Regions from separate parts of the Homo sapiens genome. Here region 2 is linked to region 1. A link means that fine-mapping ties the variant in region 1 to the expression of a gene that starts in the linked region. Tissue or cell type: lung. Region 1 holds a variant in brackets; the other region holds the start of a gene. All regions are shown on one strand. Distances are between the middles of the regions.

The links. PIP is the estimated chance that this variant, and not a neighbour inherited with it, causes the effect.
Region 2: it holds the start of MTUS1, and the variant in region 1 is fine-mapped to the expression of MTUS1 in lung (TOPMed, PIP above 0.99).

Annotation. Positions count from the first base shown.
Region 1 is chr8:17,601,794-17,609,900 of GRCh38, forward strand. The region is part of intron 2 of PDGFRL (platelet derived growth factor receptor like); the gene reads left to right. It overlaps LOC107986919 (a long non-coding RNA gene), which reads right to left. Exons shown (of 2, transcript XR_001745819.2): 2 at 3,853-4,253. Among named protein-coding and RNA genes, the nearest start is that of PDGFRL, 29 kb to the left of the region's middle. The variant G/A (reference allele first, on the strand shown) is at 4,900.
Region 2 is chr8:17,797,214-17,805,320 of GRCh38, forward strand. MTUS1 (microtubule associated scaffold protein 1) reads right to left here and starts at 3,881. Exons shown (of 15, transcript NM_001363059.2): 1 at 3,848-3,881. It overlaps MTUS1-DT (MTUS1 divergent transcript), which reads left to right and starts at 4,129. Exons shown (of 3, transcript NR_186403.1): 1 at 4,129-4,529. RefSeq lists silencers at 3,995-4,114, 4,195-4,254, 4,295-4,484.

The DNA of each region.
Region 1 (8,107 bases):
TGATTTCATTCTTTTTTATGGTTGTGTAGTATTCCATGGTGTGTATGTACCACATTTTCTTTATGCAGTCTACTATTGATGGGCATCTAGGTTGATTCCTTGTCTTTGCTCTTGTGACTAGTGCTGCATGAACATAGGAATTCTTGTGCCTTTGTGGTAGAACTATCTATATTCCTTTGGATACATACTTGGTAATGGGATTGCTGGCCCACATGGTAGCTCTAAGTTCTTCAAGAAATATCCAAACTGCTTTGCACAGTGGCTGAATGAATCCACATTCCCACCTGCAGTATGTAAACTTCCCCTTTCCTCCATGACCTTGACGGCATCTGTTATTTTTGGCTTTGGTTACTAGCAGTTCTGACCGGTGTGAGAGGGTATCTCATTGTGGATTTGGTTTGGATTTCTTTAATGATTAGTATGTTGGGCATATTGGCCATGTGTATGTCTTCGAGGAAGCCCCACTTTTTGACAGATAAGGGAACTGAGAGTCATAGAGGAGATGTGGCTGGTCAGAGGGACAAGCTGGCAAGTGGCTGCATGAGTCCCAGAACTTGGGAGCCCTAGTTCCTGAGGCAGAGCGGCTGCCCCACTTCAGAGCTCTGTGGTATGTGTGTTGAGATAAATTCAGATCACAGTACACTCTCGGTCTGATGGAGGTAGCTTCAGGCAAGAGAGAGTAATCATCGAATTTTTTTTTAAAGCTGTAGACTAAACTAACCTGATTTCTAAAGATTCAAAACAGAAATGAAAAGCAGATACCCAGAATGAGGCATTGATTTTTCTTGGTGGAATAGCTTTGCGTGGAAAGTGGTTGAAATTCCACATTGATTTAGGGTAGCTCTTTGGATGCCAGAGTGTGAAAACCTGATACTGGGCTATTTGGAAAGGAGAGCTCTGTTGGAAGAGCGTAACTGCAGGATGCTCTTGGAGTTCTGGTCTACTCTGCGATGCTTGTTTGCAAAACCCTGTCATGAGAAGGTCCACTAGATGGCAGGTTTCAGCTGTGCTACAACTGGCTTCCTATCACCAGTAAATGAAGAAACATTCCAAATGAGAACTGAGTGGATACAATATGTGCCCACTTATACCTATGGTCCTTTCAGCCTTTCAGGCTACGTAGTGGTCACAGTTTCAAGTTGTATTTTAAACAGTATAGAATTCATTTTACAAACAAATTTTATTTTATTTTTATTTATTTATTTTTGGAGACAGAGTCTTCTTTCTTGCCCAGCCTGGAGTGCAGTGGCACGATCTCAGCTTACTGCAACCTCTGCCTCCTGGGTTCAGGTGACTCTCATGCCTCAGCCTCTCAAGTAGCTGAGGTTACAGGCGTGCGCCACCAAGCTTGGCTAATTTTTTGTGTTTTTAGTAGAGACGGGGTTTTGCGATGTTGGCCAGGCTTGTGTTGAACTGTTGACCTCAAGTGATCCACCCACCACCTGGGCCTCGCTAAGTGCTGGGATTACAAGCATGAGCCACCACGCCCAGCCCAACAAACACATTTTTTAAAAAGGGAGCAGACATTTGTAAGTGTATGTACCCACACAGGGACAAATTTATTCATGCCCCTGTCCCCTGCTGGGTCTTTCAGGAGCAGTGGCCCCCTTGAACAGTGTAGTTGATCCCTTCGAGGCTAATATAAACTTGCTGATGACTGTATTTTCAGGTGCTGAAATTGATTCAGGTTTTACCTCCAGACTCAGTCCATCCCAGATCCCATAAACATCTCCTGTCTTTGAGATCGGAAATAGCAAAGGTACTGTTTCTGACAACAGTAGTTATCATTTGTCGAACACTCTGTTTCTTGACTCCTCTGCCCTGTTCCTTTCTTCCCACTGTTTTATCATAAGCATCTACTATGTTTGTGGTCTCTGCTAGGCAGATGATGGAGATAAGATGGTGAGCAAAATAGATAAAATCTCTATATCCCATAGATCTTTTAATCTTAGGGAAGACAATTAAATAAGCAATTTTAATAAAATATTAAAGTCTGTTAGCAAGTGCCTTGCTAACCGAAGTATGCTGTCAAGGAGGAGGAAACTCAAGCTCATATTTGAAAGTTCCCTGGGTAAGGAAGGGCATAGCAAGATATAAGGAAATTCCAGAAAGAGAGAAGTGTTTGAAGGAAGTACCTAGAAGTGGGAAAGAGTATAAAACTTGGAGCATGAAGGGCAGGTGGGTAAGATGTGGCGGTCAGAGGCGAGGGAGTGGGAAGGAGGTTAGGAGGAGAGATGATGATGGGAGGTGAGGCAGACCATGGAGGGCCTTGTTGGCCACATTAAGAAATTTAGAGTGCTGGAGAGGATGTGGAGTAATAGGAACACTTTTACACTGTTGGTGGGACTGTAAACTAGTTCAACCATTGTGGAAGTCAGTGTGGCGATTCCTCAGGGATCTAGAACTAGAAATACCATTTGACCCAGCCATCCCATTACTGGGTATATACCCAAAGAGTTATAAATCATGCTGCTATAAAGACACATGCACACGTATGTTTATAGCGGCACTATTCACAATAGCAAAGACTTGGAACCAACCTAAATATCCAACAGCGATAGACTGGATTAAGAAAATGTGGCACATATACACCATGGAATACTATGCAGCCATGAAAAATGATGAGTTCATGTCCTTTGTAGGGACATGGATGAAGCTGGAAACCATCATTCTCAGCAAACTGTCGTAAGGACAAAAAACCAAACACTGCATGTTCTCACTCATAGGTAGGAATTGAACAACGAGAATGCATGGACACAGGAAGGGGAACTTCACATACCGGGGACTGTTGTGGGGTGGGGGGATGGGAGAGGGATAGCATTAGGAGATATACCTAATGCTAAATGACGAGTTAATGGGTGCAGCATACCAGCATGGCACATGTATACATATGTAACAAACCTGCACGTCATGCACATGTACTCTAAAACTTAAAGTATAATAATAATAAAATTTAAAAAAAATTTAGAGCAAAATTTAGGGCAATTATGAGTCGAGGATTTAAAGCCTTTCTAAATATGTATACAAAGAAAATGCATGGCTGGGCATGGTGGCTCACGCCTGTAATTCCAGCCCTTTGGGAGGCTGAGGCGGGTGAATCACTTGAGCTCAGGAGTTTGAGACCAGCTTGGGCAACATGGCAAGACCCCATCTCTACGAAAAAAGATACACAAATTAGCAGAGCATGGTGGCGTGTGCCTATAGTCGTAGCTACCTGGGAGGCTGAGGTGGGAGGATTGCTTGACTCTGGGAGGTGGAGGCTGCAGTGAGCTGAGATCATGCCACTGCGCTCCAGCTTGGGCAACAGAGTGAGACTCTGTCCCAGAAAGAATGAAAGAAGGGAGAGAGAGAGACAGGGAGAGGGAAGGAAGGAGGGAGAGAGACTGAAAGAAGATGCTGAGTAATATAAACCGCATTGTGAGGGTTAGCCGTCCTCATTGCCTTCAGAAGAAAGACAATGTCTCTTCCTGTGTCAGTTGCCTCCATCCTTCCTCCCCATGCCCCATACCCATTTCACTCCAACTGGGGTCTTTAGATGTGTTCTTGGACCTCATGCTTTTTTGCAATAATTTTTTAAATTTTTTCTTGCATTTTGTTGATAATATTAAAAACTTTGTGTAAGAATATTCTGGATTATCTGAATAACCCCTGCTGGGAGATCAACGTGACCCATTTGCATCTTCTCTGCACACATTTTGTTTCTTGAATCTCATCATAACACACTTCCAGGGTGTAAAGCCAGAGAATTCTTGGCACCGCGCTGAGCCAGGGAAGAAAATGAGATGAAACGGAGAATAAGTGGGTCTGGACGAAGGCTTAAATATAACCAATCAATGCTGGTAGGAACAAGGAGACGTTGGAGATTTCAGCTATGTTGTCAGCAACATCACAGCAGTAAAAACAAGATAGGCTGATGTGGTAATAAGCCCTGGTCCTGCTCCCTAGGAAATAAGAGTCCAGGCATTGTCTTTCAGGATGTTTTTCTGGTATCTGGTCGGATGTTAGCATTTTTTCAGTCAAAAACTGGGAGTTGGGAGGAGTGCGTGGGGCACAGGAGATCTCTTTGATGGCTGGCTCCTCGGAAAACAATAAATAGCTTTTAGAGAGAAGGGAGGGCATCGGGCTTTTCATTTGGCCACGGTTGGCAACAGCTTACTCCACCCACAGACAACACAAAGGGAGGGTGGGCCGATGGAGCAGAGAGTGGGCTCCCAGCCAGGCTCATCATGTCATCCAGCATCTGGAGGGAGAGTCTGGAAGACATTTTAAAAGAAAAGGAGAAATATCTTAAGTGGTTATCAACAGAAGAATCCCACCATTGAGAAAGAATCTGCACAGACTTTGGTAAATGTTGTGGAGAGTACTCTGGTGTTATGCTGAGTAAGGTATTTTTTTTCAAATAATTTATATTTTTCGAAAATACACAGAACGTACAATTTACCATATTAACCATTTTTAAGGAGATAGTTCAGTACACTTAAGTGCATTCATATCATTATGTGAGTGTCTTTTGTATGCGAACTCACTTTCCTCCAAAGCTCGTTTTATTTTATTTTCTGAGCAGAACAAATGAAGATGAGGAGGCTCTCACTTTGCCTTCATTCTTATCTGGAGCATGGGTCCAATTGGGGTCTAATTTGCAGTGGCCAGTCAAAAGGAAACGCCACCCCCAAACTCTAATACTTGCCTTCAAATGGTCTTCCACCCCAGAAATGACAAATAGGTGACCTAACCAATGCTGAAGGTAGAGCGTTCTCTTTCCAGACTCACTGGCACCAGCTGCAGGCCCTCCGTATTTCCCCAGAGATGGGTGGGTGGAGGCTGCAGGATACAAGACTTCCCCCAGTGTACTCAATGTTCTGAGAGCGTTCAGCTTGCAGAAAAACACAGCTATGTTCC[G/A]TTCAGGACAAGGGTGGGGGGCAGGTAATAATAGAACGAGGCTCATTGTGCTGTTCTCAGGATAGAATGAGGTCATGCGTGTAAACCTCTTGGCACACATAGTAAGCCACCTAAATATCGGTGAGCTATTTCTGTTCACCATACTGTACCCAAAGGAGGTAAATCATAAGAAACAGCCAGTTTTTCGTTTTTTGTTTTTTTGTTTTTTTTTTTTTTTTTTTGAGACGGAGTCTTGCTCTGTCACCCAGGCTGGAGTGCAGTGGTGCAATCTGGGCTCACTGCAACCTCCACCTCCCAGGTTCAAGCAATTCTCCTGCCTCAGGCTCCTGAGTAGCTGGGATTACAGGTGCATGCCACCATGCCCTGCTAATTTTTGTATTTTGATTGGAAATGGGGTTTCCTCATGTTGGCCAGGCTGGTCTCAAACTCCTGACCTCAAGTGATCCACCTGCCTTGGCCTGCGAGTTTCGTTTTAAGAAACGTTTTAGACGTGTGTCTCAATCCCCTACAAACTCTTTGTGTCCATAGCACTGTGGAGGGCTCACTGATGCTCATACTAATGGTCCCAAGGTTCTCTAGATCACCCATTGCTCGTCGATCTAGTCATTAGAGTAGGGGAAATTGGTTGAAGCACGTTCTATAGTTTTGGGGAAAACGTCTTCTGCTAACTCTTACTTAAAAATAATGTTTCTACCTACACCAAATATGTATTTAAAAAAACAACAAAAAAAGTTTCTTTCAACAAAACATTTCATTTCTTGAGCATTTCTGGTAAGTCTAGGATTGATTATCCCAGATGTGTTGCACAGAATTAAAATACAGTAAGAAAATGACAATACAGTCAAGCTAGTGCGTTAAACCAAAGACACTGTAGGAATATCACCAACTATGTTAGATGATAATTTTGGGGCATCTTGCAAGATGGAGCATTGTTTATAGTACCAGTGATTGCATGTATTTTATGAGTGAAATGTTGCTTTAACAAGTAAGTATACATGTGGGTGACGTCTGGGATTTAATGCTCAAATGTAAACACTGGTGTGTTAGTAGCATGATTTTTGGCCAAGTATTTGAATATAGAAGATGTAAATAAAACAGCTTTGAAAGATATGTCAAAGGAGGGAGCAAGAAAAGAGGAATAAAGGATAAGATGTAAAATGGGAAATTTTATGTCCACTAGTGTATAATTGTGTAGAATGGCACATTTATAAAAAAGCAAAACGAAGATGTCAGAGGTTTGCCTCCAGTGTCCGGGCTTGGCTGCCTTGGCGGCTCCGTCCCACCCACACAGCCGGCTGCAGGTGGGCAGCTGCTAAGTTGCTGCCCTGGGGAGTCCGCCCAGAACCTTCTCTTGTCACTTCCCGTCCTGCATTCCCAACTTGTCCACTCTGTCCTGGGGCCTCAGGGGCCTGTCTCCTGCCTCGCTTGGTGCCTTCCTGCTCAAAGACTTTGCTTGGATTGCCTTTGGGAGTTCATCCTGATTTGCCCCTGGTCTCTGCCTTTCAGACCACATCCTACTGTCCAAAGCACTCCTCTCTCTCCATCCCACTGCCTAGATCCCAGATGAGATCTGGTGTCTCAGTTACATTGGAGCAGAGGTCAGAAAGCACCAGCTCACCCTTCCCTGTAACAGCACTGTTGTTTGTGAACTTGACTTCATAGCTGGGAAAAGGTAGGGGGTTGGGGGCCCTGTGAGTCAACCAACATTGATACAAGTGAATCAATGTTGAACGTGCCCTCATGCGTTTATTTACCCAGGTGGCTCGTGCATTGGCACAATATATCACATCAGCTGGTAGGCATCCTGGGGAAGGAGGCAGAGGGAGGCACTGTCCCATACAAGAGCCGGAGGGGTGACCAGAGCGAGTGTGTCACAGCCTTCAGTTCAGTGTTGGTCTGCTGAGGAGAATGCACGCTAAATAGCATTAACGTTTGCTTAATGTATATATAAAGGCAGTCTACTAAGTCAGAATGCTTATGAGGGGGGAAAAAAGACAGAAATAGTCCCAACGACAAGCAGCTTAAGAACTAGTGAGATAAAAGACAAACCAGATACAAGGACAGAGCAACAGAAGACAGTGTGTGGTCAAGTGTGAGTGTGGAGCGGCTGATAGGAAGGAGAGAAGGCAGCTGTGAGCAGGCGTTGGTGAGGCAAATGGAATCATTGTGTAAGTGATGACCTGATTGTTGGAGACCAGGCCTTGAAGATAAGATAGAGACTTGTACAAAGCAGAGCCAAGGAGGGGCCAGGCAAGGCAGCTCATGCCTGTAATCCCAGCACTTTGGCAGACTGAGGCAGGAGGATCACTTGAGCCCGGGAGTTTGAGACCAGCCTGAGCAAAATAGTGAGACCCCATCTCTTAAAAACAAACAAAAAGTTTTAGCTGGATATAGTGCTACACCCTGTGGTCCTGGCTGCTTGGGAGGCTGGGGTGGGTGGTTGAGGCTACAGTGAGCCATGGTCACACTGCTGCACTCCAGCCTGGGTGACAGAGCAAGACTGTCTCAAATAGTGATAATAAAATAGGAGCCAGCTGGGCACAGTGGCTCATTCCTGTAATGCCACCACTTTGGGTGGCTGAGGCTGGTGGATCACCTGAGTTTGGGAATTCAAGACCAGCCTGGCCAACATGATGAAACCCTATGTCTACTAAAAATACAAAATTTAGCCAGGTGTGGTAGTGGGCACCTGTAGTCCCAGTTACTTGGGAGGCGCAGGTTGCAGTGAGCTGAGATTGCACCACTGCACTCCGACCTGGGCGACAGAGCGAGACTCTGTCTGGAAAAAAAAAAAAATTACCTGGGTGTGGTGGCGTGCACCTGTAATCCTAGCTACTCAGGAGGCTAAAGCAGGAGAATCGCTTGAACCTGGGAGGTGGAGGTTGCAGTGAGCTGAGATCACGCCACTGCACTCCAGCCTGGGTGACAGAGTGAGACTCTGTAAAAAAAAAAAAAAAAAAAAAAAAAAAAAAATAAGAGCCAAAGAGAACAGCATCAAACCTCCCCCAAAAGATTGTGATATGCAGCCAGGTTGGAGAACCACTGATGTGGCTTGAACCCTACGTTTTAAAAAGTGACTAGATTGAGCCACAGAGCCTAAGAGACTTGCTCATGTTGCACAGCTTTTAGTAAAGTAAACTCAAATCAAGCCATATTCCCAAGATCTCTGTAGTCTCTACACCAAGAAAACAGTTTGTTTATTTAGGTT
Region 2 (8,107 bases), 200 kb after region 1:
TCCAGCCTGGGCAACATGGCAAAACCTTGTCTCTACAAAAAATACAAAAATTAGCCAGGCATGGCGGCACATGACTGTAGTCCCAGATACTCAGGAGGCTGAGGCGGGAGGATAGCTTGAGCCTGGGACGTGAAGGCTGCAGTAAGCTATGATCATGCTACTGTATTCCAGCCTGGGTGACACAGCAATATCCCGTCTCAAAAAATAAAATAAAATAAAATAAAATAAAAAGTTAGAAGAAATTACAAGTCAAATTCAACTCCTGGTTATACTGGACCATCCAAAACCAGGTATAAAGTCTCCCTGGTCAAAGTAGGCTTTTCGGGGCCAGATTTCAAGCTAGCTGAGTTCATACCATCCCATCTAGTCCTTCATTTCCTGTGGGTGGGATCGCTCATCCTCCTTCTCAGGAGGCCACAGTCACCACTGTATCCGCTGCTAAGTGGTCACCTCCCTCCGGGGCCTGCCTTCTTCCAGAGAAAGTCTGAGGCCATTTTTAAGTGCCCCTAAGCACGCAGATCCTGAACTCCAATTTCATCCTTATGGCTCAAATATGGTCCTATCGCTTACTCTTACGCTCTAAGCTTGGGGAATAAAAGGGACTCAGGCTCTCATGGAGAACACACTTCCTTTAGTGAGGACTTTCAGGGTATATTCAAGCTTTCACAACACAGAGAAAGAACCCAACTTTGAGATATCAGGAAGACGTGTTCCCCCGCCCCCCCAAATAAATACTTTGCTGAGTAGCAGTATTGGAAATTAATCCAGGAAATTTTTTAACTACGTATGCAGTACATTTGTCTGGACATCAACAAGTCCGTATGAAACCACAATAATGACTATAAAAAGAAGAATCTGGCAAAATGATACTACAAATAGATTACTGACAATAAATGGAGTGTGAGCCTACTTTGTATAATCACAGAATAACAGATCTGAAAAACATTCAGTCTTAGGGATTTAAAACTTTCTGCTCTGATTTCAAAGGATGTTGTTCCTAATAGTATATACCAGGCCCAGTGGCTTCTCATCAACAAATGCAATTAGTTTTGCAACAGTCTCTAACCCAAGATATGGAAGTTCTTGCAATGAATTTGAAAAGATTCTAATTTAGAATTTGGGGAATTTTTTTTTTTTAAGATGGAGTTTTGCCCTGTTGCCCAGGCTGGAGTGCACTGGAGTGATCTCGGCTCACTGCAACCTCCACCTCCCGGGTTCAAGCGCTTCTCCTGCCTCAGCGTCCCAAGTAGCTGAGATTACAGATCCATGCCAACACAATTGACTAATTTTTTGTATCTTTAGTAGAGACGGGGTTTCACCATGTTGCCCAGGCTGGTCTCGAACCCCTGACCTCCTGATCCGCCCGCCTTGGCTTCCCAAAGTGCTGGGATTAGAGGCGTGAGCCACCGCACCCGGCTGGAAAATTTTTTTTAAATCTTCTACCACAGTCACATATAGTTCTGAAGCTACGATTTAGAAGTGTTAAAAATTCTGTTTTGAGAAAGTCAACAGATTTATCAACATTAAAGAAATTTGTGTATGTCAAAACTACTGTAAATATATAAAGCAAAGATAAAATGGGAAAAGTATCTGCAATATGAATGGCAAAGATTTACTATCAATCCATAAAAGGCTCTTATGAATTAATGGAAAAATACTAATATCCCAGGAGAAAAATCTGGCACTACATCAAATTTCAAAATGGAAAACAACTAGATTTCTTTGGTGTTCAAATCATCTGTAATCAAAGAAATTGAAGTTTAAATATAGAGAAAGCACTGTTCACCTATAAACCTGGGAAGAATTTTTTTTTTTTCCCTTTAAGGATGATTCTACATGTTGACAAGAATACGGTAACACCAGTATTCTCACAGAGAGCTGGTGGGAACATAATTTGGTTAAACATTTTTTGGAAAGCAAATGGTCAATATGTATGAGGAGATCTTCCAACCATCAACTGTATTTCAAGGGCACTAAGGATATTAACCCTGCACATAAAGTTTTAAAAACGTATTTGTTGCAAAAGTATATTTAGTAAGTGGAAATAAATGAAAACCAGTTTGATACATCTATGTAATGTAATATTAAGTAGCCACTAAGATTTCTGAAGATTTCATGACATGGAAAATTTTTCATGATACATTAATCAGGAAAAAACCTCCACGCAATAGTATATTTAGATAAACTATATAACTATAAAAAATTTTTCTATATATTAACAAGTATTTTCTTAAATATTAACTGTGATTATCTTTGCTGAAATTGCTTAACTCACTTTTCTCAATCTACCTATTTTTATACAGCAAGCACGGATTACTTTTGAAATCAAAACAAACAGGGTTAACAGAACAGGGCTATTAAGTAACAGGCTTTTTAAATGCTTGAGTGTAATAACTGCAGGTTAGTTTCCAAAAAATATAAGATATTATCTAGAATCTTATAATCCTATTATACTCCAAAATGTAACCTTGACTTATTGACATAATTAAAAGGTCTTGTTCCAAGCATGATTTTCTACCAAGCAGATTTACCAAGAATTATTTTCTCTTCATAAACCTGATTTTAAAAAGAACAGGTGAAAAAACGTGGTGCAAGTTACATAAATAACTACATATTATTTTAAACTAAATTCCACTTCTAAGGTTTTTTAGCTTTGGTTTTAAGGATAAGCATGTAGTTCTAATCTTTTCTTTGTATAGCTTTCCTAATGGAATATATTGCCTATGAAAAAAAAAAAATCTGTAACAGCACTTTCTACACTGTAAAGCACTGTACTAACAGGACATCACCATTTTAAGTTGTGTATCATTTCCTGCCCTAACCATCCCTGAAAAAGCAAACTGTCTACAGAATTGCAATTCCGTTTATGCAATTCCTTTTAAAGTTGTCCATGCACTGTTATCTTGTATATACCCTCCTTAAAGAGGTCACTGGTTCCCAGGAAGCAATGACTCTCTTTTTTAATCCCCTCCCTCCTGCATTGCCTCCCTTCCTCCTGAAATTCACTGGTAACACCCCTACTCCCACCCTCCAGCCCCAGCGCTGTGATTTAGTGATGATTGACTTTCGATCACCTGCACCTGGCAAAACTTGAAAGCTTCCACGCACCGTTTTGCCTAAGACTTTGGTTTCATTGAAACAAACAAAACACACTGGATTTCCTTTCTTAGAACACTGACTACTTCAAACAAACAGTATTTAACAGAGTATGTGTAACTACGCAGGCTAAATGAATTAACCTCTTCCTTCCTAGTCCCAAATTACTCCAAGTCAAAAATCAACAAACAACTTGGTAGAAAGGAGTACGTCTTCAAAAAAGAACAAAAACGTTCCTCAGTGAACACCTAAGTCCACTAAGCACTATAGAGTAGTCAATAAGGTCACCTTAATTAAGATGAGATTTTTCTAGAGCGTGAAAAAGTGCAAACAAGCTGCAGAAAGTAGCGAGGCGCCACGAGGGGTCTTTGGGACCTGCAGCAACCCTATTCCACCCGCTTTCTCGGCCCCGCTTGCTTCTGCTGAGAAGGGGCCCTGCGAGAAGGCTGGGACCGCCGGGCCCGGGTGGGCGGCGTAAGGAGTCCACAGTCAAGCCCCTCGGTCACTTTCAAGGTGACAGCGACGAGATCCGCATCCGTCCCTTCCGCAGGCTCTGCGCTGGCCCACGTGAGACCCGCCTCCGCTCCGCCGGCGCTGCCGCCCCCTTTAGCCCTCAGCTTCGGCCCCCAGGCCCCTGGAACGCCCCCTCCCCTCCCCGAGGACCGGTCCCGTCACCCTGGGCGGCGCGCTCGCCTGTCCCCTCCCCACCCCGGCCGCCGGGCAGCGGGAACAGATTCCAGCGCGCACTTACCCGCAGCTCCTTCAAGCGCTCCGGGAGCAAAGACGCAGAGGCGGGGAGGGCTGGCGCCCTTTGCACCACTGGCGGGGTCGCCGAGAACCCGCCCCGGAGGTCTCGGGGGCGGCGTCTGCACCTGGGGGCGCGCGGCGCGGCACCACCCCACGCCTGCGGCGGCTACCAGGCGGGACCCGGAGCCCCGGCCTCCCCGCCTCCCCGCCTCCGGGGCCGCCAGGGGGTGGAGCAGGGCGGGGAGTTCGGGAAACTTGTAAATAGCCGAACTCGGGCCTCCCGCCCCAACCCGGGGCGGCTCCTTCCGAAGGCTCCACTCCAGCGGCTCGCTGCGGGAGACCAAGGCCAGCCGCCGTCCCAGGGGACGGCCCTCGGGGAACCTGAATGACGTGCGAGGCCGTACCTCGGGGCGCTGGACTCCGCTCGGGCGCTCCCGCTCTCCGCTCCCGCTCTCGGGTCCCAATCCCGACGCTCCGCGCGCTCCCGGACTAAGTGCGGACGCGCCCCACGCCCCCCGGCGCCAGCCCGGGACAGCGCTGCACCTGTTGCCACGTGCGACGCGGCGCTCAGCGGCTGCCACTGCCGCCGGCGCACCTGGCTGCACCGCGCGTCCCGGGACCACGCTCGTCCCCGCAGGAGCCCGGGGCTCCGCCGCACCCAGCGCTAGGGCCCAGGCCGGGCCGCGGTAGGTGGGGGATCTGACTCCTGCTTGCCTCTGGCCACCTGCAGGCCGAGGGGCCTCGCACCGCGGGGCGTATAGAAGGTGGGAAGGTTGCAGAATTATCAGGGCGGAAGCTTGCAAGGAAGGAGTCGTGATTGTCTCTTAGAAGGGCTGATTCGCAGTCTGTATTATCTTCATGCTTCTAGCAAGTTTACTAGCAAGTGTGTATTAAAGGTTAAAGAAAGTAGCTTTCCAGCTATTAGAGCTTGAGATACAACGTGGAAAGGAGTCTAGAACCCCAGGGAGATAAACTAGGCTCGACCTACTTTTCTCTAAACACAAACACAGTCCTTGCTGTTTGCTAAACTGAGCAAATTTCATCGACAGCTGTCTTCTAGGTCCGTAAAATATTTTCTTCTATAAAGCATATTTTTAATAGAAAACTTGTCCGAAGATGCTATTCTGCCTGTGAGAGATGTCACATTGCTGAACCGTGAAATGTCAGACAACCTGAGAACAAAATTTTAATATTTCCTTTTTAATTACCTGGATTGTGGTTTGCTAAAAGCTTTTAAAGAGAAGTGAACTTTTTTGGAGAATAGACGTAAGGACTCTGTATTTCACAGTTTTCTATACCATGAATATTAGAATAACTGACAGATGTCTTGCCATTGATAGTTGTAAAGACTTTTCATATGTACAATGATCCATTATTTCCTGACTACAAAACCCAGGGGTATATAGGTCAGATTATCTCCATTATTCAAATGAGGAATTGAAGCTCAGAAAGGTCAAGTGACTAGCGCAAGGTCACACAGCCAGTGAGGGCAAGTGCAAACCCAGCCAGCCTAACTCCTAATCTTCTCTTTTAATTCCATTACATAATGACACCTCTCATTTGCTTCAGAAATCCCTGTTGTAAAGATAGATGCAACTAGCATGATCCGTGTTGTTAGGAAAGGCATGTGATTAATTTTAAATAGATATAGTATTTAACACCACCAGATGAGTCTCCCTCTGAAAAAGCACACAAAAACAAAACAAAACGCTGACATAGTTTCCGCAAGTCACGAGGCAATTATGCTAATTAGCAACAAGCCTCCATCCCTAAGCAGAATAGTTCTTGTGTGAAACATATCATTTAATCTTTATAACCCTGATGTGACCTAGATGATTTGGTCTAAACCCCACAATCCTATTGTGTGGCTTAGTTATATCTATAAATATAGAACCTGTTTTACTTCATTTTTGTGTCAGGTGGTTTGAAGGGGGGAAACATACAATGCTCTGCTAAGTAATTAGAGCTACTTACGCAGGCATTGGGGAATCTGAAACTTAGCTTCTAATTGTCTCCACATAAAAACAGAAGTTAACTTCTAGGGACATCTTCAGGGACTCCTCAAGGCAAATATTCATGAAATGGGGCCTATTGGCTTTTCTTTTCATCTTGGTTCTGGGCATGTTGCCATGTTCCTGATCTCTGAACTCTGATGCTGACCTGCTACAGACTCCAGGAGCAATATTAAGGATAAAATAATAACTCACATAACTTTGTGGCTCTTTATTCTAAAAAAAAAAAAAAAAGTTGGCTCAATTTTTTTTCCTCCATAAGAAAATGCAAATTGCAACTGTATTGAGAAACCATTTTTTCACTTATCAGATTGTCAAAGATTAGAAAGTTTGATAATCACAGTGTTGGTAAAAGTGTAGACTAGCAGTCACAATGAAAATGTAAATGTAAATTATAATGACCTCCCTAGGGGGAAGGTCAGGATACCTAACAATATTGCAACTATACGTATAAGAGTTTATCTTGGCCCTGCGTGGTGGCACGGTGACTCATGCCTGCAATCCCAGCACTTGGGGAGGCCGAGGCGGGCAGATCACCTGAGGTCAGGAGTTGGAGACCAGCCTGGCCAACATGGTGAAACCCTGTCTCAACTAAAAATACAAAAATTAGCCAGACATGATAGCAGGCGCCTGTAATCCCAGCTACTTGGGAGGCTGAGGCAGGAGAATCCCTTGAACCTGGAAAGCGAAGTTTGCAGTGAGCCGAGATTGTGACACTGCACTCCAGCCTGGGCAACGCACCGCGACTCTGTCTCAAAAAAAAAAAAAGAGTTTATCTTACAACACACAGGAGAAATGGTATGTATCTACAACCTTGTTTATTTCAGCATTGTTTATAATAAGATATATTTCAAATACAAATATTCTTTAGTAAAGGACTGATAAATCATGATATAGGCATAAAATGAAATCTTATGAAAGCTTTTAAAAAGACTGAGAAAGCTCTTTGTACTTTTATGAGATGATCTTCAATCTATGTCATGTGCATTTTTTAACACAAAACAATTACCTAATAGTATGCTACAATTTCTACTAAAAGGGAGGAAATGATACAAACTTGTATAGATACATATATAGATATGTTTGTATAAGCATAAACTAAGCATAAGCCACCAGGCATGGTGGCTTGCACCTTTAATCCCAGCTATTTGGGAAGTCTAAGGGGGAGGATAATTTGAACCCAAGAGTTTGAGACCTGCCAGGGCAACTTAGACCCTGTCTCTATAAAAAATACAAAAATTAGCTGCGCATGGTGGCATGCGCTTATAGTCCCAGCTACTCTGGAGGCTGAGGTGGGAGGATGGCTTGAGTCCAAGAGGTTGAGGCCATCGTGAGCCATGATTGTGCCACTGCATTGCAAGCTGGTGACAGAGCAAGACCCTGTGTCAAAAGAAAACAAAACAAAAACCCATAAAATATCTGGAGAGATATACCAGAAGCAGATAACATTGGTTGTGTCTTGAGATGGGAGTTGGATAGTTAAATGGCAGCATTAGAAGAGAAATTTGTTACTAAATACAATTTTGTACTTTTTTTGGATTTTGAGCCATATAAATAACAGAACCCATTCTAATATTTTAAAATGTTTTACCGCATGAAGTTTTGCCATCAGGAATGACCAAAGTTTCTCTGTGAACGAATTTCACTTATAGATAAAATAAATGATTGGTCAGGCATGGTGCCGTGGTAGGTGTATCACCTGAGGTTCGGAGTTCGACAGCAGCTTGACCAACTTGGAGAAACCCCGTCTCTGCTAAAAATACAAAAATTAGCGGGGGCATGGTGGTGCATGCCTGTAATCCCAGCTACTAGGGAGGCTGAGGCGGGAGAATCGCTTGAACCTGGGAGGCGGAGGTTGCGGTAAGCAGAGACCTCGCCATTGCACTCCAGCCTGGGCAACAAGAGCGAAACTCCATCTCAAAAAAAAAAAAAAATGTTCAATAGATGCTTCTGACCCTATTTCTTCTCTAGTTTATCTAAAAAAGACAACTTTGGTACATAAAACTCTAACACAAGTGTGGTGAAAACGATGAATTAGCAAATTGTAAATTCCTTGCAATTTGATTAGCAGTGACATCTCCCTTGGGTAGGGCTTCCAGATAACTTTACCAAAGTTGCATTCAATCAGAAATGAAAAAAGTATTCCAGGCCTTAATTCTCAAGGGGAACTCCATGGAGTCATTGCCTTTGTTCCCAATCCGGGTCCCTTTTTTTTTATTTATGTTTCCTTATGGCACCATCTCACTGAGAAG